Homo sapiens: one gene and its partners. The protein of the gene in region 7 purifies or fractionates together with the protein of the main gene of each other region. This does not show direct contact. Each region holds a gene or a part of one and is shown on either strand. Other genes may lie near its edges. The genes, in order: METTL13, AP3S1, LOXL2, POLE2, FRAS1, PASK and KLK5.

The links.
Region 1: the proteins of KLK5 (region 7) and METTL13 purify together in Homo sapiens (affinity purification with mass spectrometry; 3 studies listed by BioGRID and IntAct, with this or other methods). This does not show direct contact.
Region 2: the proteins of KLK5 (region 7) and AP3S1 purify together in Homo sapiens (affinity purification with mass spectrometry; 3 studies listed by BioGRID and IntAct, with this or other methods). This does not show direct contact.
Region 3: the proteins of KLK5 (region 7) and LOXL2 purify together in Homo sapiens (affinity purification with mass spectrometry; 4 studies listed by BioGRID and IntAct, with this or other methods). This does not show direct contact.
Region 4: the proteins of KLK5 (region 7) and POLE2 purify together in Homo sapiens (affinity purification with mass spectrometry; 3 studies listed by BioGRID and IntAct, with this or other methods). This does not show direct contact.
Region 5: the proteins of KLK5 (region 7) and FRAS1 purify together in Homo sapiens (affinity purification with mass spectrometry; 4 studies listed by BioGRID and IntAct, with this or other methods). This does not show direct contact.
Region 6: the proteins of KLK5 (region 7) and PASK purify together in Homo sapiens (affinity purification with mass spectrometry; 3 studies listed by BioGRID and IntAct, with this or other methods). This does not show direct contact.

Annotation. Positions count from the first base shown.
Region 1 is NC_000001.11:171,791,660-171,794,937, reverse strand, and holds part of METTL13 (eEF1A lysine and N-terminal methyltransferase), read right to left. Parts: intron 2,922-3,278; coding exon 2,703-2,921; intron 543-2,702; coding exon 411-542; intron 1-410. UniProt on the Homo sapiens protein: Dual methyltransferase that catalyzes methylation of elongation factor 1-alpha (EEF1A1 and EEF1A2) at two different positions, and is therefore involved in the regulation of mRNA translation.
Region 2 is NC_000005.10:115,869,435-115,872,934, forward strand, and holds part of AP3S1 (AP-3 complex subunit sigma-1), read left to right. Parts: intron 1-582; coding exon 583-694; intron 695-3,500. UniProt on the Homo sapiens protein: Part of the AP-3 complex, an adaptor-related complex which is not clathrin-associated. The complex is associated with the Golgi region as well as more peripheral structures.
Region 3 is NC_000008.11:23,366,121-23,369,620, forward strand, and holds part of LOXL2 (lysyl oxidase homolog 2 precursor), read right to left. Parts: intron 2,315-3,500; 5' UTR 2,232-2,314; coding exon 1,877-2,231; intron 6-1,876; exon of another isoform or gene 1-5. UniProt on the Homo sapiens protein: Mediates the post-translational oxidative deamination of lysine residues on target proteins leading to the formation of deaminated lysine (allysine).
Region 4 is NC_000014.9:49,643,215-49,646,714, forward strand, and holds the end of POLE2 (DNA polymerase epsilon subunit 2), read right to left. Parts: exon of another isoform or gene 3,356-3,500; intron 457-3,355; coding exon 438-456; 3' UTR 341-437; downstream 1-340. UniProt on the Homo sapiens protein: Accessory component of the DNA polymerase epsilon complex. Participates in DNA repair and in chromosomal DNA replication.
Region 5 is NC_000004.12:78,060,323-78,063,822, reverse strand, and holds part of FRAS1 (extracellular matrix organizing protein FRAS1 isoform 1 precursor), read right to left. Parts: intron 1-3,500. UniProt on the Homo sapiens protein: Involved in extracellular matrix organization. Required for the regulation of epidermal-basement membrane adhesion responsible for proper organogenesis during embryonic development. Involved in brain organization and function.
Region 6 is NC_000002.12:241,128,973-241,132,472, forward strand, and holds part of PASK (PAS domain-containing serine/threonine-protein kinase), read right to left. Parts: intron 1-3,500. UniProt on the Homo sapiens protein: Serine/threonine-protein kinase involved in energy homeostasis and protein translation. Phosphorylates EEF1A1, GYS1, PDX1 and RPS6.
Region 7 is NC_000019.10:50,943,039-50,946,538, forward strand, and holds the end of KLK5 (kallikrein-5 preproprotein), read right to left. Parts: intron 749-3,500; coding exon 593-748; 3' UTR 265-592; downstream 1-264. UniProt on the Homo sapiens protein: May be involved in desquamation.

The DNA of each region.
Region 1 (3,278 bases), on a different chromosome or scaffold from region 7:
TGAGGTGGGAGGATTCCTTGAGACCAGGAGTTTGAGGCTACAGTGAGCCATGATCAGGCCACTGCACTCCAGCCTGGGAAACAAAGCAAAACCCTGTCTCAAAAAAAAAAAAGGGAACATTCCAACATTCCATATGATTCCATTTATATAAAGAACAAGAACAGGCAAAATTAAGCTGGGTGGACAAATGTTAAGACAGTGATTACTCTTGCGAGGACAAGTTACTGAAAGGGGATAAGAGATACGACTTTCTGGCAAGCTGGAAATTTTCTGTGTCTAGTGCTAGTAAATGGGTGTATTAAATTTGGAAAAATTGATCGAGCTCGCACTTCTGTGCATTTTTCATTAAAAAGATAATTTTTGTTAATGGTCCCTTCTCTCCTCCCTCTCCCACCTTTTGTTCTCCATACCTTCAGGAGTCAAGATGCTTTTAACCTTCTGTAGAAAAGATTGCTCCACAAATGCTGGGGGCGGACAACTCATTCCCAGTGTTGGGTCCTTACTGTCAACATCAAACATTATGACATCGTAGCAAGGCCGTGCTGGGAAAAAGAAGGAAACAAGTCCTTGTCTTTGCTGGATAAAATAATACCATTTACATTCCAACACTATACCTCCTCTTTACCAGTGGTGGGCATGGTGACTAAGTTAGAAGGATGACACAGAGGATGTGGTTTGCCTGTAAGGGCACTGATGTCATGGCCCAGGGGAGTCTTTGTCATCAGGGTTCAGAGTGTCCCATAGTAAAGATGGAACCTTCTTCCACATTTAAAAGCACCTTCCAAAGGCAAAAACATTACTGGGGTCCCCTTTGCATGAATATTTCTCGGTTAAGAGTCTATCAACACCAGTGGCTTTTGACTGTGGCAGAACATTACAATCACCTTGGGAAGCTTCTAATGTGTACTACACGCCAACCAACAGAATAAAATATCCTGGGGTAGTAGGGGGCAGATGGGAGGAGAGATGGGAAGCCTCTGGTATTTTTCTTGAGCTTTCCAGGTAATTCTAAATACAGTCAGAGTTGAGAACCACTGATCTAGACAAAGCAGCTGACTAAGCCTTTAAGGGCTGACCCAGCAAATGGTAACTTTTAACTCTGAAAACAGCACATTTTGCCTCATAGGAGAAAATGTTCTGAAATTTCAGTTAGTGTTATCTTTGCAGTTCCATGAACAAGAGCTGACTCAAGAAAGAAATGATTTTGCTAAATGGGTGAGAAAGAACTGATGAAGAAATGGATCTGCTCCTTACTATAATGTTAAATTGTTTTTATAAGGGGTAGGTCTGCAATGCCACTGACAGGTTTTTAGAAAATTTTGAGACTGTGGTCATAATTATTCAATAATTAATAAGTATTTAATTAGGACTGCTGCATGCTTATCATTGTTCATAGCACAGATCTGATTTTGGTTTCTTACAAAGAGAACATGTTGGCTCATCAAAGTCCAAGGAAAACAATAGCCTGCATTTGCAGCCTTGAGCCCTCCAGTAATCTGAAACATTTTGGTGTTACAGAAGATGGGCAGAGCCATTGAAAACTGATCTATAGATAACAACAGCAGTAACATCATGGATTAAGTACTTACCATGTGCATGGCACTGTTGTAAATACTTCACCGTATTAGCTATCTGGGCTTGGGCACCTAAACTAACCCTAGCCTCAGAGAGGGAACCTACGAAACTGTTACAATTCAATTCAGTTTGCAATTAAAATTAAGATAGCATCTGTTCAATACTTGTCCCAGGCCTCCTAGTTTGCCACACCCTTACTGGAAAATATTCTAATCTAGTGAGACCAGAGTATCTGTTATGGAATGAGCAGACCAGCAGTCCTGAACAGAACTGAACCAACCTAACTGCCTTCTCCCCGAAGGACTCGAGCTCCAGAAAGTACTAAACTCACCAGCAGCCTATCTGTATAATAGCAGAGTTACTGTCCCTAGTATTTTACAGAAAATTATTATGCTTATGGTTTTTGTCCTAAATCTGGGATGCAAATTACTAGAGCAAATGGAACCTTAATTCTAGTTGCAGAAGGCCTATCAAAATTCCCACAGAGTACCATCTGCATCAAGGTTTCTCCACCTGAGCACTGTGGAAATTCTGGGCCAGATAATTCTGTCATCAGTGCCCGTCCTGAACATTGTAAGATGTTTACTAGCATCCTAGACCTCTACCGTTTAGATGTCAGTAGCAACATCCCCCACCCCGATTTGTGACAATGAAAAATTGTCTCCATACATTACCAAATGTCAGACCCTGAGGTTGTATACCACTGATCTTACATGAATACTGTTTTGCTCTATTTCTGGCTTTACCTCCAGTTGAAATATTTACAAAAATACCTCCCAACACACATTCCACCTTTTCTTCTCTGTTTCTTTGCCCAGTTAGACTTCAGGTTTCTTAAGATGGTGAGGAAATGACAAGGTTACAGGTCAGAAAAAAGCCCACTGGTCTGTTAGCACCATAAGGGCAGGAATGGCCTGTTTTACTTATTGCTTTACATTCACACCTAACACAGTGCTAAGCATATAGCTGGTACTCTAGTGAATAAGTATATCAACAAATGAACAGGCTGAAGACTGGAACGATACTCATGCCACTCTCTTAGAGATAAACTGTAGAGGCCCTTGCGGGCCTGACAATGTCGCATCAATCATCCCTCAACACCCCTTCAAATGCTCCAAGAGCAGTACCTTCTCCTCCTCCTGCCAAGCTGGCGATATAGTCCAGGCCATCTGCAATGTGGACCTTCATTCGGTCACTCTGGGAGAAGCCAAACCACTGGGTGGCCACTTCCAACATGGAGGGATCGATCTCCACAGCATCAATGCAGGACTTTGGAAAATGATCGTGGACAAAGAGGGGGAGGCTGCCCCCGCCCAGGCCTACCACCAACAATGCCAGTGGGATCTCTGTAAGAAAAGAATAGAGCATCACATTGCCACCTGTTCACTGGAAAATTCTGTACCAGCCTCAGGGAAGGCAAAAGGGAAAGTCAGCTCACTGTCTCCATTCAGGGGATACAAGATTTAGAGGTCTCCCTGTCTCATTTCAGAAATCTAGGAGTGAATTTGACATCTGATAACTGAATCCTGGATTCATGATGACTAGATCCAGAAGATGAACTAGTGTGTTATTATTATTGTCTCTTAAAGATCTCAAAGTGGCCAGGGGCAGTGGCTCACACCTGTAATCCCAGCACTTTGGGAGGCCGAGGTGGGCAGATTACTTGAGCTCAGGAGTTCGAGACCAGCCTGGGCAACATGGCA
Region 2 (3,500 bases), on a different chromosome or scaffold from region 7:
TACTTCTCTGACTTTATCATTTACTAATCTTTTCTTATCTACTGGCCTTTTTTCTCTTCCCTGAACATACATACTTTGTTCTTGATGAAATGTCCTTTTAGTACTTACTACCTTAGCCTGAAATGCTCTTCTCTAAATTTTTTCCAAGCCAACTCCTTATCATTAGATCTCAGCTTAAATGCCACTCTTGCTTAATATTCAGCCTGAAGTAGGGAACCCATCAATATATCATCATTGTATTTTGATTGTCAGTGTAACACTTGCCACTATCTGATGATGTTCTGATGTGTGTGTTTGTTGCTTCTTCCCCACTACCAGTGCTTGGCACATAGTAGTTACTCAGAGAATAGTTTAATGAATGAATGAACTGAAATTAAGCACTGGCTTCTTTTACTTGATGTTTCTGAAGAAAACAGCCACCTTAATTCACCTAGTCTCTGAATAAGTTCACTTAAATACTTTGCCATTGAATGTCACCTTTCATTTGACAAGTGGTTTTTAAACAAATTGTCAGTTTGCTTGAGCTAATGAAAATGATTCGCATTTTGTTTCCAATAACATTACAATTTTTTTGTCATTTAGATTAATTGGAGGATCTGACAACAAACTGATTTATAGACATTATGCAACGTTATATTTTGTCTTCTGTGTGGATTCTTCAGAAAGTGAACTTGGCATTTTAGATCTAATTCAAGTAAGTTAACACTTGCTTCTTACTATCTTAAATAACAGTTTGACATTTAAATTTTTAAAAACTTATATATTCTAAATTTTCTAAAATGATGTTAGTAAGAAATAAAGCATTTCATAATAGATATTGTGTTGGTAAAAGAGGTCAGAGGACATAGAAACAAGCAAACATTTGATCTGATTAAAACTATCATAACTAGTTTAATCATGACATTTTATCTTGCTCATGTAAGTTACAGCAAGGAGCTTAAGACTCGTGGGTTTCTTAACACATGTATCCAAAACTAACCCTAAACCCTACCTCTCCCTGTCTCCTGAAAATCTTTCATAATGTCCCTGGAACTCAAGGTCAGTCATCAGCAAATTTCTTTTTATCTTCAGCCTCTTCTGTTAATATTACTTTACATTTTGCTCTAAATTAAATCTTGCTTCCCTGATGATACTACGTGCAACCCTTTGAAGTAGTGGCCATTTTCTCTCCTGCTTCTTTCTGCCTTTGAGCCTGGAGGTGTAATCTTAGCTTCTCATTGCATTTTCCAGACCATTCTTTCTTCTCAAACACCTCCAAATTTTATCTTATGTTATCAGACTATACCACCTTCTATCCATTTAGTTATAGTCATCACTCATCTCCATCTCTCCTTCATTGGAGATTTTGTTAAGAATTGTGAAGGGTCTGAGATTTGCTCTACTTGCAAACTAAGAAGTTAACCTGCCATAATTTCATGGATGCTGGCAGAAGGCAGGAGATTTCTGGGCCAGAGACAAAGGACCTTATTACTAATAGCAAAAACATTAGCTAAAGTGACAGCATTTGCTTGCACGAATTCTCTAATTCCCAAAGGGTGATATGAAGAGGTCCAGATGATACCTGCACACACAGTGGATTAAATGACAGATGAGGAACGCCAAGTTTAGGGAACTGGAATCTTTTATAATGGATACTAAGCATGTCTGCCCTTGTTTGGAAGGAAGACTGTCTCTTCCAAGAGTGTAAGGAAACCTATCCTTTGCTGTGGAAGAAGACACTGTCTATTTTCCAGGGCTGTTTGATATACAAGCATGCTTAAAAAGATAGCCCAGAACAAAGACAGTCAATGCCTCTGCTCACAATACGTGTGGAAACACAAGATCCATCTAAAATTGTCTCCTAATAGATTTTGGTTCTTGGTTCCCTGGCATTCATTCCAGTACTGCTTGTTTTGTAATTCTTGGTGATTCCATTGTTCATATGTATAATTCTCCCAATATCCTGGTGTCTTCAAAATCTGGAACTCCTCTCTTCCAATAAATTTTGCCCTCCACTCCATCTCACTATGTACCCATTTCTAGATTTTATCTTTGTCTAAACTGTAACCCCTCCATAATCTCAATTTCACAGTTTTGAAGTCGTTAGACCTATTGCAACCCTCAGTTTTAAAAATCCATCATTTTTTTCACTCTGATTTTACTGATGTCTTACTTTCCTTATCCAGCTTAAATTTCATAATCATGGTAGTGATATAGCCTTGTGTACACTGAACTCCTTGCCCACACCCATACATCTGAACATACCTAGAGGAAAAAAAAAAGTAACCATATTTACCAGTCTCACTTTAAATTAATGATCCCTTAGCTCATTGAGTCCTTTATGCTACGCAAGAATCATTTTCTGTTTCCCCGGTCCATTTACTCTCCCATACCTCTAGATGACTACTCATACAGTCTCCTCTCTCCTAAAATATCTAGCACTTCTAGCACCTTGCTTCCCAGTGCACAGATAAAATTGGCTTTTGAAGTTAGCAAGAAGGTGGCATGGTTTGAGCTCTAGTTGGCGTTACAGAATAGACAAGAAATTAACCCAAGCAGACAACTTAGGTAACAAATTCTTAGCACTGTGGCTAAGGCTTTAAAAATAAAAACATTGTGGCCAGGTGTGGTAGTTCACACCTGTAATCCTAGCACTTTGGAAGGCTAAGCTGAGCAGATCACTTGAGCCCAGGAGTTCGAGACCAGCCTGGGCAACCCCATCTCTACAAAAATTAGACAGGCATGCTGTTCTGCACCTGTCGTCCCAATCACTTGGGAGGCTGAGGCGGGAGCCAGGGAGGATGGCTTGTAGTGAGCTGAGATTGTGCCACTCACTCCAGCCCAGGTAACAGAGTGAGACCCTGTCTCAAAAAAAATAGAAATAAAAACATTGTTAATAAAATAAAAAAGGAGATAAATGATAAATTGATCTATTTGTATGCCATATTACTCTTAAATCTGTAATTCTTAAACTGGGTTTTTGGGAGGAGCTGGGTATCAAAGTTACATGAAACCACAAGGTAATCATGGCACATATTCCTGGTATATGTTTCTTCTTTGTTTTGAAGATTGGCGGCAGTGAGGAAATGAACGTAAACATGTATATATTATGAGGTAGAATACAAATTTTTCATAATATTTAAAGCTCTAAGTGGAGACTTGAAAGAAATTTTGAGCTTGAGGTAAAGGTGCCCCAAGATCCCTTGGGTATATGTTCACTTTCCTCCTGGGGCCTACTTGAGAAACACTGCTGAGTTATGTTTTGCTTTCTCAAGGCTTTTCTAGTAAAGAAAAAGAAGCCAAATCTTACTTTTGATGACATTGAAGGGTTGATCAGGACTATATATTGCATTGCCTTGTAACTTTGTTTATTCTTACATTTCTTAGTTTATCCCACCTAGGGGAGTAGTTAATTCATTTTATCATTATGTCAAGAGAGCATTATATTTTTACAGAAAAAAAATTAATATAGAACCATGCTTTCTATTTCTCTGTTTCCCATGACTGAAGAGAGTGGTAGA
Region 3 (3,500 bases), on a different chromosome or scaffold from region 7:
AAATACCCAGTCACTGGAAAGCATTTGTTATAAAATAATGAGCGTTGGAAAGCCTGGAATGGAAAACATGAATCTGAGGTTACCCCTGGATCGCTCAGCCAGCCGGATAAACAGAGATGTGGAAGTATCGGACGTTTGTTTAAAGAAGACAGGAAGTGGGTTCTAAAGCCCAGCATTTGCTAACTTCACTGCTGTGGCTCTCATCGCCCAGAGCAAGCTGCAGAGAACATTTGACTCTGTGCTGTCTCCTGATCCAGTTACCCCAAAAGGAAATTTTCAATTGCATGGAGGTGAGATGTGTATGAGATGGGACTTCCTTTCTCCTATAATTTCTAGAATAACAGAAAAGTTGGAAGGGAGGATAACAGTTATCAATTTCAATGACTCCCAAACCTGTCACTTTGCAGACTTCCAAAAGAGACAGAGTCCTGGGCTCCAGCCCAGACCTTTTAAACTAGATTATGGTGGGTTGAGGTCTGCGCTATTCTGTACTTTTAAGCTCCCTTGGGCGATTCTTACGCAGTCAGCATGGCATTAGCCCTTTAGTCCAGGACAGGAGTATAGGCAGCTCTGCTTTAGTCCAGTAGCCAGACTTGTGCTGAGGTCTGGGCTGCAGCTCAGCCGGGCGGGAGGGTGTGGGAGCTTCCTTTGCCTGGCTGACCCAGAGATAGGAAACTCTTAGCTCCTGGAAAAATGTTTAAAAAGAAACAATTCCCTCCACCCTTATCTCTTTCCTATTTGGGAACATACACTGTCAGGGTTTCAGGGGTTCTTAGCCCAACTTCCAGATGGGGAAAATGAGGCTGGAGAGGACATGCGTCTTCCTACAAAGTGTGGTGTCAGAGGTCAGTACAGACTGAGCTCTAGGTTCAGGGCTTCAAACTTTGTCCTGCCTCAAAGCTGTTAAAGCAATTTTTTGGGTTTTTGTTTTGTTTTTTGTTTTTTTGAGATGGAGTCTCGCTCTGTCACCCAGGCTGGAGTGCAGTGGCGCGATCACGGCTCACTGCAGCCTCCGCCTCCCGGGTTCAAGCGATTTTTGTGCCTTAGCCTCCTGAGTAGCTGGGACTACAGACACTCGCCACCATGCCCGGCTAATTTTTGTATTTTTAGTAGAGATGGGGTTTCCCCATGTTGGCCAGGCTGGTCTCGAACTCCTGACCTCAAGTGATCATCCCGCCTCCGTCTCCCAAAGTGCTGGGATTACAGGTATGAGCCACTGCGCCTGGCCAGCTCTTAAAACAATTTTTAAAAATAAACTAATAAATTTGAACCTCACAAGGGAGGAAAGAATAGGCTAACCAACGGTGAAAAACCCAAAGCATCTGTGTGCCTATTGTGACCAAGCCCACAATAGCAGGTTAGTGTGAAAACGATGAACTCCACATGCCAGGAAGGTGGGGGGCGTCAGGGAGCTCCAGCATGTGGGAGCCATTGTGAGGAAGAGCAAGAGGCTTTCCTAACAGGGAACGATTTGGAGTAAAGCGCAACTTCCTCTGGGCTGACGCAGCCCCCAGGCAGGGCATATGGGGCGGAGAGAGGAGCACAGGCCGATTTCACCCCCTACCTGGGGTCACCAACTGTCCTGGTTTTCCTGAGGTTTTCCCAGGATGTGAGACTTTCTGTGCTAAAGCCAGGAAAGTCTTGGGCAAATCAGTATGGTTGGTCACTTACTGTGCCCCTCCTCAAGCCCCCCGACCCCGCCTTCCTGCAGGGTGCAGCCTGAGTGGGCACAGAAGGATGCCAGTCCCTGGATGGGCATCACCAAGAATTTACACTTCGCAGTGCGTGCAGCCTCCTCTCCCAGGCTGACCTCAGGGAAGGCCACTCCGGGCCTTGCCAGGTGACAGCACTCAGATCCAAAGCACAGAGCGTTTACCTTCTCCCTTGCCGTAGGAGGAGCTGGCAGTCCAGGACTTGGCCTCCACGTAGCCCAGCTCCCGGCAGACGACGTGGGCAGCGTGGATGGAGAAGTCGTCATCGCACACGGTGCCCCACTGGCCATCATAGTACACCTCCACCCGGCCCTCGCTGTGCTTCCTCTTCTGCCCAGCCAGGCGCAGCTGAATCTTGGCCACGTTGGCGGGGGCCTGGGGCTGGTGATACTCAGGAGCCGGTTGCTGGAAGTACTCGGGGTAATGGGGCCAGCTGTCATACTGTGCCAGGCTCAGGGGGGACAGGAGGGCCAGCATAGCCAGGCAGCTGCAGAGGTGGGAGCACAGAGGCCTCTCCATCCCTGTCTTCGGGCTGATGATCCCACGAAGGGGCCCTGCGCAGCTGGGAGGGACAGGCGGGGTACAGAAGCAGCAGGAGCTTTCTGGAAGAGAGGAGAGATGCGTTAGGATGGGAACGTGGGGCTACGGAGACCTACATAGAGAACCAGCGATTTCATACCCCTTGGCTTAATATGGAAAGCTCGTCCATTCTCGACGCCAATCCAGCCCCACTCCTACATTTCCACCATGCAGGGCTGGGAGGTCCCACCTCCTTTACCTACTGCCTTGTCATCTCTCTAGAATGCTTTTTCCAGTAGAGTTCCTGGCAGGGAACAGAACACACTCCAACTTAATTTAAGGAGAGTTTTTTAAGACTACGGACATGCCGGCAGAGTTCTGCAGAACTAACAAAGGCCGGTGTCACACCCTAGGGCTGGCGACTCAGAGGGGGCTGTGACCACCCTAGGCTTGAAGGGAGCCTGCGGGGGTGAGAACTGGAGACTGGCAGAGGGAGCTGTCTCTTAGGAGCTGTGGCCCTCACTGGAGGGTCTCAGAGCCAACCCATGGCAACGGCGGGGACATGGGAGGGAGAATAAATACCTGACTCCCTTTCCTCCCGTCTTTGAATCATTCTGGTGCCTCCTATTAGGCAAACCCAGCCCCCTTCAACTCGAAGCCACTGGCAAGGGAGCTGAGCCCATTGAGGGAGCCCGTGTGGGACAGCCTCCTGGAACATGGGGGCCGGTGGAGAAGGAGCGGGTCTGAAGGGGTGAGGGCAGGATGTTCAACACACCCACCCTCCATTAAATGAATGGCACCCCAAAACACTACAGGAACATTTGCTAGATGAATTATAATTTTCCCGTCAGCTTTGAGGGCTGCAATGCTAAATGAGTTTTAAAATCCTCAAGGTCCTGGTCATCGTATCTGGTGGAGCCTACCTCTAAGAATTCCCGAGTGAAATCATGTAGCAAGAGACCTCGTGTATCTTGGTCCTCCCGTAATTCAGAGAAAAGAGGAGACGATTTTAAAAGGAGCACACGTGTGTCTTGTGGAGAAACATGCAGGGCCCCAAACCAGGATGAGCAGGTGGAAGCTTAGGTGGGGGCATAAGGTATTTTATTTTAACCCTATGCAGAGGAGTAGGCTAATCATATTCTTCTGGTCATGGCACACTACCTTTGAGGAAGGACTGGCTAACTTTCCTGTAGTCAGAGCTGTCCAGAGCTGCCCATGGAGGGATGATCTGCCTTGGAGTGAGGCAGTTCCATGTCTGTTGGGTGACCA
Region 4 (3,500 bases), on a different chromosome or scaffold from region 7:
CCAGGTTCAAGTGATTCTCCCTGCCTCAGCCTCCCGAGAAGCTGGGATTACAGGCGCCCGCCACCATGCCCAGCTAATTTTTGTATTTTTTTTTTTAGCAGAGATAGGGTTTTGCTACCTTGGCTAGGCTGGTCTCGAACTCCTGACCTCAGGTGATCCACCCGCCTTGGCCTCCCAAAGCACTAGGATTACAGGCGTGAGCCACTGCGCCTGGCCCCCATATATTTTTCTTAAAAGACTATGCAGAAAATATTTTTCCTAGAAAACTTTCTCAAGTATACCATCATATTTATCACTTAGTATCAAAATTTCACAAAATACAAATTTAAGCAGAACATCCTAAAGTTTACCATAATTTTATTGTAATATCAGAATCACATAAGATATAGAGTTAAGCAGAAAACTGATGAATTTTCTTCAGATGATCTTTAAGAATCTCAAAAGCCTTGAAGTTTGCTGAAAATAGAAAAAAAAATTAAATATTTGGAAACCTAAGTTGTATACTTACTAATAGTTGTAGTTAATTTTTTTAAATAGGTATAGTTAATTGATTTTTAAAAACAGGTCAATACATACATACTGTTTCAAATTCAAAAGGAGACTCTAAAAAATAAGTCATTCTCATGCCCCCTTTTCTGCTCCCAAAAAGCAAATGTATGTCTTTTTTTTTTTTTTTTTTTTTCGAGAGGGAGTCTCACTCTGTTGCCCAGGCTGGAGTGCAATGGCGTAATCTCGGTTCACCGCAACCTCTGCCTCCTGGGTTCGAGTGATTCTCCTGCCTCAGCCTCCTGAGTAGCTGAGATTATAGGCACTTGCCACCATGCCTGGCTAATTTTTGTATTTTTAGTAGAGACGAGGTTTCACCATGTTGGACAGACTGGTCTTGAACTCCTGACCTCAGGTGATCCACCCGCCTCAGCCTCCCAAAAAGTGCTAGGATTAGAGGCATGAGCCACCGCGCCCGGCCAACAACTATATGTCCTTTATAAAGGTAGACTAATTTTTAAAAAAAGTAGCCGGGCGCGGTGGCTCACGCCTATAATCCCAGCACTTTGGGAGGCAGAGGCGGGTGGATCACCTGAGGTCAGGAGTTCGAGACCAGCCTGACCAACTTGGAGAAACCCCATCTGTACTAAAAATAAAAAATTAGCCAGGTATGGTGACGCATGCCTGTAATCCCAGCTACTCGGGAGGTTGAGGCAGGAGAATCTCTTGAACCCAGAAGGCGGAGGTTGCAGTGAGCTGAGATTGCGCCATTGCACTCCAGCCTGGGCAACAAGAGCAAAACTCCGTCTCCAAAAAAAAAAAAAGTATTCTAATCATATATAAGCACATGTATATGTGGGCTTATGCTTTAAAAACATACAGAAGTGATAGGATATTATGCATACTTTCTACACCTTTTTTCCATTAGTAGTAAATACATTATATTTACTTCTTTGAGGCTTAGAAATTTAAGTAAATCAGAAAGTTCTGAATAAGTACAAATATTTAGATATATATACATTTTTAAAATTTCTTGGTATAAAAACTGCAGTAAAAAGGCTGGGCGCAGTGGCTCATGCCTGTAATCCCAGCCACTTTGGGAGGCCAAGACCGGTGGATCACCTGAGGTCAGGAGTTTGAGACCAGCCTGGCCAACATGGTGAAACTCCATCTCTACTAAAAATACAAAAAATCAGCCAGGCGTGGTGGCATGTGCCTGTGATCCCAGCTACTTGGGAGGCTGAGGCAGGAGAATCGCTTGAACCCAAGAGATGGAGGTTGCAGTGAGCCGAGACTGTGCCGCTGCACTCTAGCCTGGGCAACAGAGCAAAACTCCGTCTCACAAAAAAAAAAAAAAACACTGCAGTAAAAAGCCAGCTGTACCTATACATGATGTACCTACTTGTATGCATAGGCTTAAGTATACCTATAGAATAAATTCCTAAAAGTGGAATTGTTGGTGTAGGCATTAATAAATCTTGTCAAATTGCCCTCCATAAAGGTTTCTGCCATTTTTCATTCTGACCAACTACATGTGAGAATGTGTATTTCCTCCAAAACATCACCAATATTGTGTTTTTAAATAAAACTACTTGAAAGTCATGTTTAAACAGGGTTAATTTTATCAACTTTGACTACATTTCTGTGACTAATTCCACAATATGATTTCACAAATATTCTAACAGAAGGCTTCTTAGGAGAAACTAAGTGGCAAGAAGGCCAGATTATTTCAATATATCTTGAAACTTTTCTGTTTTCCTAAAACATAAACTTACATCAGTTTGTTTGATCTAGCATTGAAAAGATTCCCCAGTTACCAATACAAAATTATAGTTTGGAAATTATGTCAAGGCTTTCAGCATCTGAGGCCACAGCAGATAAAGGAAGCAACTATTTCAGTGGACAAAGAGTGAGCATCAACTGCAAGTACCATGAGACAGGGTACTTGACAGCTGTCACCCAGGCTGGAGTGCAGTGTGGACCAATCACAGTTCACTGCAACCTCTGACTCCCGAGCTCAAGTGAGCTCAAGTGATCTTCCCACCTCAGTCTCCCCAGTACCTGGGACTACAGGTGTGGGCCACCACACCCAGCTAATTTTTTGTATTTTTTTGTAGAGAACAGGCCTTGCCATGTTGCCCAGGCTGGTCTTAAACTCCTGACTTAAGTCATCTGCCTGCCTTGGCCTCCCAAAGTGCTGGATTACAGGTGTGAGCCACCACGAATGGCTGCAGACTGTTTTATGTCTACAAGTTTTATGCCAAATGTTATTTCAGTAAAAGACATTCTAACAGTGGATAAGACTGTATGCTCCAGGCTGACAGCCCTCAGAGTTGACTTAGTCCTGGGGTCACAAAATCAAGTGCCCTCAGGATATCCAGCGTAGACAAGTGGGCTGGAAAAGAGCCACAGCGTCTGGCCTCCTTTTTAATTTTATATTTATAAGCATGTTTTGAAAATTATTCATTTTATATTCACTTTTATTTTAAATAAATATGTTAATTCCAAAAAGAAAAAGACAACTGGGCTGTGTTCAAGATTATATTCTCTGACAATAACCTGGAGGGGAGTTACTTGATTTGGTCAGTTGTTTTTTTGTTGGTTTTTTTTTTTTTTTTTTTTTTTTTTTTTTTTTGAGATAGAGTCTCACTCTGTTGCCCAGGCTGGAGTGCAGTGGCGCCATCTCTGCTCACTCAACCTGTACCTCTCAGGTTCAAGCAATTCTCCTGCCTTAGCCTCCTTCTCCTGAGTAGCTGGGATTACAGGCACACGCCACCACACCCGGGTAATTTTTGTATTTTTAATAAAGACGGGGTTTCACCATGTTGGTCAGGCTGGTCTCAAACTCCTGAGCTCGTGATCCACACACCTCGGCCTCCCAAAGTCCTGGGATTACAGGCATGAGCCACCGTGCCCTGCCTGGGCACTTGTTCTTAACCAGTGGTGGGAACTTTTTCAAAATACAGTTATCTGAGAAATCACATGTTAGGATGCCTGAAATTACAGGAAATAAT
Region 5 (3,500 bases), on a different chromosome or scaffold from region 7:
TTTAAAATAAGACTATCCTCAAATAATTTTATTGCTCTCCACAGCATTACCTTCCAAAGTCAATTTCTTTTCAAAGCTCCAAAGGAAATCAAGCACCTTAAGAAGTATCTGAGTACCCATATCAAAACCTATTTTTGGAAGTTTAGATAGCCATGATAAACTCACTGCAGTATGAAAAAAATAAAGTAGCACTGAGTGTGGCACCACATCTATACCTGGGCAAGCCATGCATCTGCTGGAGACTCAAGCCAAAATGGTGTAGAGCTGCTGAAAAATTATATCATTAGGAAAAGGAATTAATTCAATTTGGGTTGCTTTGTATTGTACAATTCCAAAAGAAATAAGCTTTGCCCTCTGAGAGCTTTCCTAAAACAGAACAGTTCTACCTGGAAGGCAGCTGCATGAATGAGCCTCCATTAACACAGCTTCCAAAACCTCATTTCTACTCTCTTGAGAAAAAAAGCATTCCAGTGTGATGCCCAGTTCTATCAAACATTTATCATCACCCAATACCAGATGCAGCATCCAAAGGAAGCATATTTCTCTCACACACCCACCAGCAGATGAAGTTGAGGGGTTTGTTGACATGGGTACTGGGTGTAGCTTCTGGTTGAAAGCCAGAGTGGAGGTCTTTTCACTAATCCGTCAGTTCACATAATATGGAAAACAAAATTCATCTCTCGACTCATTATTTTTTTTTCTTCAGGAGTACAAGAATGATTGCAGGTCTATTTGACGTTTATATTTATGGCAGGGAACTTTAAAGAAAATTCCAGCTCAAGGTGAATTCTGTGAGAGAGTGCTGATCTAGAAGAAGAAATGAGCCTCCCTCAAAGGAAAACTGAGGAAAAACCGGAGACAACAGGAGTAGTTCTCTAACTATGAACAATGCCAATTTCAAGGCACAGAATGCAGCTGAGATGCCAGGTAATTTAAGTTCTAACACCTCACAACCTGTGAGAAAGAGCATAAAGTTTTGCAGGGTGAAGTAATTTTATAGTGTCAAGAAGGAAGCCCAGATCCTGAGACCTGAGCTGCTCTTTTACTGTGTGGCTGGCTCATTTCTTGCAGGTCACACAGAAAAAACGTTACTGCATAAAATTTAAACAAGTAAATGTCTGTTTTTAATCCCTTTTGCACATTATAATATACGCCTTTATGAGATGACTGTATAAAATCTAGTATTTTTGGAGAAATTTTGAGATATAATTTGCATATATTCTGAAACCGTTGGTAAACTGAGTAAATTAGAGAAGTTAAATCCAAGCACCACAAAATGTCAGACCCATTAGTTCAAAGAAATAGTGGCAGATACAACCATTAAGATACAAAAAGATTTGGAGAGCATGGTACCACAAGAACATGACTCATTAGGAACAAGCAGCCACAAGTTGGCATTTAAATGTTCAGGCTTTATGTTGTGTTATAATTCAGCATATGGCTGTGTGCACTGTGGAATACTTAAAATAGAATCATTTTCTGAACTGACAGGACAGCTCATGTCCTGATTATTGTCAACTAGGATTTAGATCAATTAATAGAGTAGTTAAAATGAAAGTGGGCCAACTGTTTTGGAACTACGGTAAGATTTGGCATGAGGCTCCAACTTTGACATGTGGTAGTCCCCTCCCCTACTCTGAGCCATGTGTTAAAGAATATTTTATGACTACTTGTGTGAGTACAGTTGGGTGACATTGCCACCCAAGTCCATAACAGTGAATACGGATGGCTGGGTCCTTACTAAAGGATGTACACTATATAAGGAGAGTAATGCCCAGAATCCAATCTTCAGAGGGCAATGGAAATATAATTGATGAAAATAAGAGTCCACAACAACACCTCTTTATTTCCATTGCCAGGTAATTACAAAAGCCAAAGGATGCAAAGTTACAACCATCATCTAACGTTTCCATACTGAGAAACCCACCAAGGACCAAATGTTCCCATATCCCTACTGCTATTCAACTGACATTAATGATTTCTAGATATGCAAACTCCTTGAGCGCAGGAGGTTTTTTTGGCTTTGGTTTTGATGTCTGTACCCACCTACTGGACATAACCTGACACAGAACCTCTCAATAAAGGCTTGCAGAATAAAAGAATTAGGTTACTTTTTTCCAGCCAAGTTCTTCTCTTCCCAACATTGAGTTATTGAGTTTCAAGCATAGAGTCTCTCAGTGAAACAACTCTGCAGCCCAGAGTGCAACTACCCTAACTCACCCATAAATAAAACATATTGTCTATCAAATGAGCCTCTTCAATGTAACCTGTTAAATAGCATTTATAGGAAAAACCCGGGATTCAGCGTTTGTGGGAATGGCTAAAATCACATGGAGAGTGATGGGACACAGACTAAAGCTCAATTCTCTTAACCTCCAATTCAATGATGTTTCCCTATCCCAAGGCAACTGTCTTATCTACTGTAACTTCACAGGACTTCCATATGTCAACAGAACTCAAGATATTTCTCCAGAAAAAGCCATGGTAGAGTTTCTGTGATTCAGAAAGCAGCCATGTTAGAAGCTTCTTTGTGACTTCTTGATTTTATTAAGTTCTCAAGTCATAGCATTAATACTTTACCAGTTTAGCAATATAAGGCCATATAAAATAACACTGCCAATAATTTGCTTGTAAAAATTTATTTTTCTTTTGATATTTCTTTTGATAAAATTTAGAGGCCAGGCACAGTGGCTCACACCTGTAATCCTAGCACTTTAAAAGGCCAAGGCAGGCAGTTCACTTGAGGTCAGCAGTTCAAGACCAGCCTGGCCAACATGGTGAAACTCTGTCTCTACTAAAAATGTGAAAATTGGCTGGGCATGGTGGCGCACATCTGTAATCCCAGCTACTCAGGAGGGTGAGACATGAGAATCGCTTGAGGCCAGGGGGCAGAGGCAGCAATGAGCTGAGATTGCACCACTGCACTCTAGCCTGGGTGATAGAGCAAGACTGTGCCTCAAAAAAAAAATAATAAAAATAATAAAATTTAGAACCAGAAAATTGCAATTGACCACTAATAATGCAGCAAATACTGATCTCTTTTTCTTCTATGTTTGATGATTAGCCAAAGTATCTTAGAGCTATCACGTAATGTACCTCATTTAGTAAATGACAGAACTATAGCGCAAAGAGGTTAGATGGTTCATTCAAGGTTAGTGAGCTAATCAGAGGCCAGTCCACCAGTTAAGCTTAATTCAAAATAATATAATTTGGCAATACTGTTCATCTGACCAATTTTTTGAGCACTTAGTGTATACTAGGAGCTGAACTGAAGATATCAGAATTAATAGGAGCCATCCTAACCCCTCAATAAGCACACAGCTAAGTGAGGAAGACCAAACCCATACCAACCACAATTGTTCTCTCTGTGCACTGAGAAGAAAACGACAAATTCTGCCATAAGCTGGTCAGCAAAGGTGTCACAAGGTACATCCCATCAAAAGAAGTATACATGTGAATGTCTCTTTTCTATTTTTAAAAATTATTCTCTAGGCTGATAA
Region 6 (3,500 bases), on a different chromosome or scaffold from region 7:
GAGGCTGAGGGTCTGCGTCTGCCTGCCTCTCTCCCTCCATGTCTCCCGCCTCTCTCCCTCCATGTCTCCCATCTCTCTCTCCCCTGTACCTCCCTCTCCCGCTCTCCATCCATCCCATGCTTGAGACAAACCCCATGCAAATGCTAGGAAACTGCACATCCTCCTGCAGGATCAGGTAAGACAGGAGGCGAATGCACACCACGAGGGTCTCACAAAGCCCCTTGCCAAAGAGTCTGGGCAACTTCTGGGGCACAGTCCAGACACAAAGCTGAGGCCCCTGGGCAGCACTGCATCTTCACCCATGCTCTTGGGGCCTTAGCGGGCTGCTGCAGCCTCAGTACCCGTTCTCTCCACAGTCACCTGGGTCCACGGCCCTTCCATCAAAACCCTTGGGCCAGATGTGTTTGGGGATTTCAGAAAAGTCATATGACCACTTGCTAGGGAGACCCCAGCAGGCTGGGGAGAGGGCTTCACGGGCATCCACTGCCCTGTGTCTGCAGCAAGGCCTCTGAACACTCAAACTGCAGAGGTCAAGGGAAAACCACAAACAGCTTCTCACGTGCTTAGGGCCAATTTGACCGTCCAATGCTTTTAGCATCAATTCTAAGAAAAATATTTCAGTGTTGGGGGCTTTTTGGATTTCATAATTTTGGCTAAGAGATTGTGAAACTGTGGATCTCTGACTTTCAGCATGACAGCAACTCAGGAAACATGAGGACATCCTCCAGCTGCCCTGGCAGCCAGGCATCGCCACGCCACTCAGTTCTGGCCAGCATGCAGTCAGGGCATGAAGGATGTGATCTGCCGACTGCACACAGGCCTTGAGCTGCTGGGACCTCAACCCAGGGCAGCCCCAGGGACCGTAGGTCCTCCAGTGGGGAAGCACCAGGACCTGACCCCCGTGGAGACCCGAGACCCCCACCTGCTGTCTGAGCACATCACCTGGGGTCTCTTCGAGGACCTGATGCCCAGTGTAACAATTCACTCAGCTTCAGCATCCATTTGCTAAAAATCAGACTACACTCCCAGGATTACCAGGAGAACTAAAGGAGACAACTTACGAGGAAGCACCCAACGTAGTCCCTAAAACACAAAAGCACTCCGTACAGCTCACCTCCTTCCTTCATGCTTCCTAACCCTGTTCTGTCTTACTGTTTCAGCTTATTGTCCTGACCAGACTACAATTCTTAGGGACACACCCCAAGTCTTCTGTAATGCTTATTTGTTGAATAAGCGAACGAGTGAGTGAATGACTGAGCGGGGAATGAATGGATAAATCTCTATAGTCATAACTGCACTAGCTGTGCAGTGGATGCTAATCAAACTCTCAGAACTGTGACATCCAGAAACGTCCAATGCAATAGAAAGACTAGGAATTGGCTGATCTTGGGCAACTCCCTTGGTACCACCAAGTCCTGGAAGATGAGTTGTGTCCAAGGTCCTGAGGATAGCAACGGGCCACGTGGCCTCTGTCCACCAAGATGTCCCAGACAACGGGAGCACTGGCAAGGGGGCCCGGCCGCTAGTGCTGTTGAGCACCCACGGGTCAGACTTGGGCCCTCAACCACGGCCGCCCCACTTCAGCTTGGTGGCACCTCTGGAGAGGTGCGCACAGCAATATTATTCATAGTAATATTGAAAACTCACGTGTTGAGCGCCTGCTCTGTTCCACTCGCAGTGGAAGTAGAGCAAATAGAGCCAACAGCTACCCTCTCACGCCACTCAACGCGGACCCACAGTGGCAAAGGGAAAATCAGGGAGGCTAAGCAAACAAGAGAAAGCACCGGCACATCGGCCAGTGGGAAAGTGGCCCATGAGCTAGGGTGCCATCCAGGAGGCTTCGGTTCCGAGGAGGCCTGTAGAGGAAGATCTGCAGGACATGTGTGTGCGTACACATACACACACATTTAGGACACTGTGTATGGTATAATCCCAGCCGTGCTCAGGGAACAGAAGCAGTTACATGTGAGCACACATATGCACATGCACACATAGAAGTATAATATACAACTATAGTTAAATGCACAAGAAAGAAGGCCTGGAAGGCTCTAACTGCTGACTGCGGTCCCCTGGGGGAAAGAGTAGGATTGGAGGAGGGGGATTGGAAGACGGCCAGGGGAACTATTGCTTTTACCATTATTCTTCTATAATTAAAAAAACACATATGCATGTATTACATTTTTTTTTTTTTTTTGAGACGGAGTCTCACTCTGTCGCCCAGGCTGGAGTGCAGTGGCGCGATCTAGGCTCACTGCAAGCTCCGCCTCCCAGGTTCACACCATTCTCCTGCCTCAGCCTCCCGAGTAGCTGGGACTACAGGCGCCCGCCACCATGCCTGGCTAATTTTTTGTATTTTTAGTAGAGACGGGGTTGCACCGTGTTAGCCAGGATGGTCTCCATCTGCCGACCTCATGATCCACCCACTTCAGCCTCCCAAAGTGCTGGGATTATAGGCGTGATCCACCGCGCCTGGCCCATGCATTACATATTTTTAAACATACATACATACTTTATATGTATCTATTACATATTTTTTAAATAATTTCAAGACTAGAAAACACAACTATGTGGATAAATATCACAGACACAGCAATAAGCAGAAGGCAGACAGAAGGAAATGCATGCGTCAGGCTCAACGGCAGGCAGTCTAACCTCTGCCCTGACCCAGGGCAGCAGGGTGTAGGGGGCACAGTGCAGGAAGGGACCCAGGGTCTGCAGGCAGCCAAGAAAGGGTCCTGGGCCACCTGGGCACCTACAGTTTGGGCACCTTTACTGCATGCTGTGCATAAGAAAAGATTCTGGGTCAGGTATGGTGGCTCACACCTGTAATCCCAGGACTTTGGGAGGCCAAGGCGGGTGGACCATGAGGTCAAGGGATCGAGACCAGTCTGGCCAACATAGTGAAACCCCGCCTCTAGTAAAAATACAAAAATTAGCCGGGCGTGGTGGCAGGTGCCTGTAGTCTCAGCTACTCAGGAGGCTGAGGCAGGAGAATCACTTGAACCAGGGGGCAGAAGTTACAGTGAACCAAGATCACGCCACTGCACTCTAGCCTGGGCAGCTGAGTGAGACTCCATCTCAAAAAAAAAAAAAAAAAAAAGATTCCGAAGAAGAAAATGGGTTAAAAATACACACACACGTGCTATGTACAATACGACTATGAGAATAGAACAAGTTTTTATTTCTACTTTTCCAAATGTTCCTAATTCTCTAATATAAACTTTCTTTACTCTAAATAGAATATTTTAAAATGTGCAAAGAGAACAGCTTCATATGACTTTGAAAATGATAAAATTAATCCCAGCACTTTGGGAGGCCAAGGCGGGTGGATAACAAAGTCAGGAAATCGAGACCATCCTGGCCAACATGGTGAAACTAAAAAAAATACAAAAAAGTAACCGGGCGTGGTGGCGGGCGCCTGTAGTCCCCAGCTACTCGGGAGGCTGAGGCAGGAGAATGGTGTGAACCCGGGAGGCGGAGCTTGCAATGCAATGAGCAAT
Region 7 (3,500 bases):
TTGCAGTGAGCCGAGATTGTGCCACTGCACTCCAGTGTGGTTAACAGAGTGAGACTCCATCGCAAAAAAAAAAAAATAATAATAATAAATAAATGAAAATAAAAAATAGCCACCTGGCCAATATTTATGAAGAAGGTGAAAAGTAGTCTGACTGGACCTCTGTTTCTCACAACCCAAGTGACCTCATAGACAAAACACATGAGCCTGGAGGCGGAGATATGACTTGTTCACAGCCACCCTGCACAGGGAGGAGACACAGGAAGATTCCACTTCTCAGTTTATTTCTGGGACTAAATTTGGGTCAGAGCTGCAGAGAAGGGATGGGCCCTGAGCTTGAGGATGAAAGTGCCCCAGGGAGATTGAGACGCAACCCCCGCCCTGGACAGTTTTGGAAATTGTTCCCAGGGTTCAACTAGAGAGACACGGTCAGCCCAATGTGGGGGAAGCAGACCCTGAGTCCAGGAGACATGGGGTCAGGGGCTGGAGAGATGAACATTCTCAACATCTCTGGGAAGGAATGAGGGTCTGAAAGGAGTGTCAGGGCTGTCCCTGCAGCAGGTGGGGATGCCGGTGTGCTGAGTCCTGGGATGACTCAGGAGTTGGCCTGGATGGTTTCCTGGATCCACTTGGTGAACTTGCAGAGGTTCGTGTAGACACCCGGTCTGTTGGGCCGGGCACAAGGGTAATCTCCCCAGGACACGAGTCCCTGCAGGGAGCCATTGCAGACCACAGGCCCCCCAGAATCACCCTGCAGGAGAGAAAGGGGGGCATGAGAGAGGCAGAGATGTGGCAAAGTGGGCAGAAGGAGACATGAGAGACCCAGAGATGCCCATAGATGGAGAAGCAGATGGGAACAGACACACAGAGATGGAAAGTACAGAGATGAAGAAATGCAGAAAAAGACAGAGATGGAGACACAGGCAAAAGGAGAGAGAGGGAGAATGTTATTAATATTTCACTCCAAATCCAGCTTTTTTTTTTTTGAGATGGAGTCTTACTCTGTTGCCCAGGTTGGAGCGCAGTGGCCTGACCTCAGCTCACTGCAGCCTCCATCTCCCGGGTTCAAGCAATTCTCCTGCCTCAGCCTCCCAAGTAGCTGTGACTACAGGTGTCCATCACCACACCCGGCTAATTTTTTGTATTTTTTTTGTAGAGACGGGGTTTCACCATGTTGGCCAGGCTGGTCTCGAACTCCTGGCCTCAAGTGATTCGCCCACCTCAGCCTCCAAAGTGTTGGGATTACAGGCGTGAGCCACCATGCCTGGCCTCCAAGTTCAACCTTTAGACCCCATTTGTCACTCTCCACTCCATCTTCCTCTTCCAGATTCCTGTTGTCCACACATCATTTCGGGGGGGTCTGTGACCCTTCCTCTCCACATCTCGAATCTTCGTCTCTACTTTCTGTTCCAGCCTGTCTCCCTCATCGTGTATCTCTCCGCCTCCCTTTCTCTCTCACTCTCCCCTCCAGCCTGTGCAGGCCTTATTTCTCTTACTGGACACACACCTTCCTTCCCCATTCTCCACCAACCCATCCTTATACCTCCCTTCTGCAAAAATACGGTTCTCAGCCCCTGGATGAGGGTTCCTCGATCTGGGCACTGTGGGCATCTGAAGCTGGATAATGGTTTGTTGTGGAGGCCTGCCGTGTGCATCATAGCATGTTGAACAGCACACTTGGCATCTATCCATTAGTTGCCAGTAATGCCCCTCCATATAGTTGTGACAACCAAAAATGTCTCCTGGTATTGCCAGTGTCTTCTAGGGGCAGAATCACTCCCAATAGAAATCCATTCGCTTGGACTAATTTGTGTTTCCTGTCTTCAATTCCCCATACCTCCCTATAATTACCCTCCTATAATAATACTCACTGCTCTTCAACAGTCATTTTTTTCCCTCTTTTCCTTCTTTCCTTCCTTCCTCTCTCTTTTCTTTCTTCTTTCTTTCTTTCTTTTTCTTTCTTTCTCTTTCTTCCTTTCTTTCTCCTTCCTTCCTTCCTTTCTTTCTCCTTCCTTCCTTTCTTTCTCCTTCCTTCCTTCCTTTCTCTCTCCTTCCTCCCTTCGTCTCTTTTTTTTTTCTTTCTGACAAAAACGTCTTGCTTTGTCACCCAGGCTGCTGTCTGGAGTGCAGCAGTGCAGTCATGGCTTACCGCAGCCTCAAACGTTTGGGCTCAAGCAATTCTCCCACCTCAGCCTCCCAAGTAGCTGGAACTACAGGTGCAAGCCACCACACCCGGCTAATTTTTTTTTTTTTTAATTTACTACATATTTATCTATCTCTTTATTGCCTGTCTTCCACTTGGGGAACATGAGGTCCACGCGGCAGGAAGTTTTTGGTCTGTTTTGCCTGATGCCATATCCACAGCACCTGGAACCATTCCTGGTGCAAAATAGCCACTCGGCTAATATTTATGAAGAAAATGAAAAGTAGCTTGAGTGGACCTCTGTTTGAGGTAGAGAGAAATGTCTATCTCCCACCTGGGCACGGTGGCTCACACCTGTAATACCAGCAATTTGGGAGGCCGAGGCAGGCAGATCACTGGAGGTCAGGAGTTCAAGACCAGCCTGGCCAACATGGTGGAACCCCATCTCTACGGAAAAAAAAAAATAGCCAGGCATGGTGGTGGGTGCCTGTTATCCCAGCTACTTGGGAGGCTGAGGTGGAAGAAATGCTTGAACCCAGGAGGCGCATGCTGCAGTGAGCTGATATGGTGCCATTGCACTCCAGCCTGGGTGACAGAGCGAGACTCCGTCTCAAAAAAGAAAAGAAAAGAAAAGAAAAGAAATAAATATGTACATACTACAATAATGATGTAAGTGGTATGAATAAAATCTACTAAAATAAAAACAATTAGTATTTTTATTTTTTTAATTTTTAGTTGCCCAGGCTGGTCTTGAACTCCTGAGCTCAAGTGATCTTCCCACTTCAGTCTCCCAGAGTGCTGGGATTACTGGCATGTGCCATTGCACCCGGCTTCATTTCTTACTTACATGCATGCAAAATATGAATTACAGAGTCCTGGTATCAATTATTAGGAAAGCCAAGACTTGCCTTTTTCCCAGTAGCAGACACTGTTTCAAAGCAAACAAGCTTAGCTGCCTGTACCTCTAAATTTCAACTTTCTTGTGGTTTAATTTCTCTCATTATTTTTTAAATTTAATATCTCTGCAGAGTTTCTTTTGAGAGGCTGTTAGTTAACTGCTCTGAGCCTTGGCTCCTTGTTTGTAAAATAGGGCCAATAATAACAGGTAAATGAGTTAATGAGCTGAGGCATGCAAACCACTTAAAACAGTGTCCAGCAATTAGCCAGATGCTATTATTTTTATACTATTGGTATTAGTATTGTTGTAGTTGTTATTATTTCTTGCTTGTAGCTTTTAGTGGCCACACCCAGACCACACACCGGTATGAAAAAACAAACAAAAAAACACCTTGAGGTCTGGAAAAACAAGATACTAACCTTGCCTACAGAAAGGCTAAATAGTTTTAAATGCCACCACTTG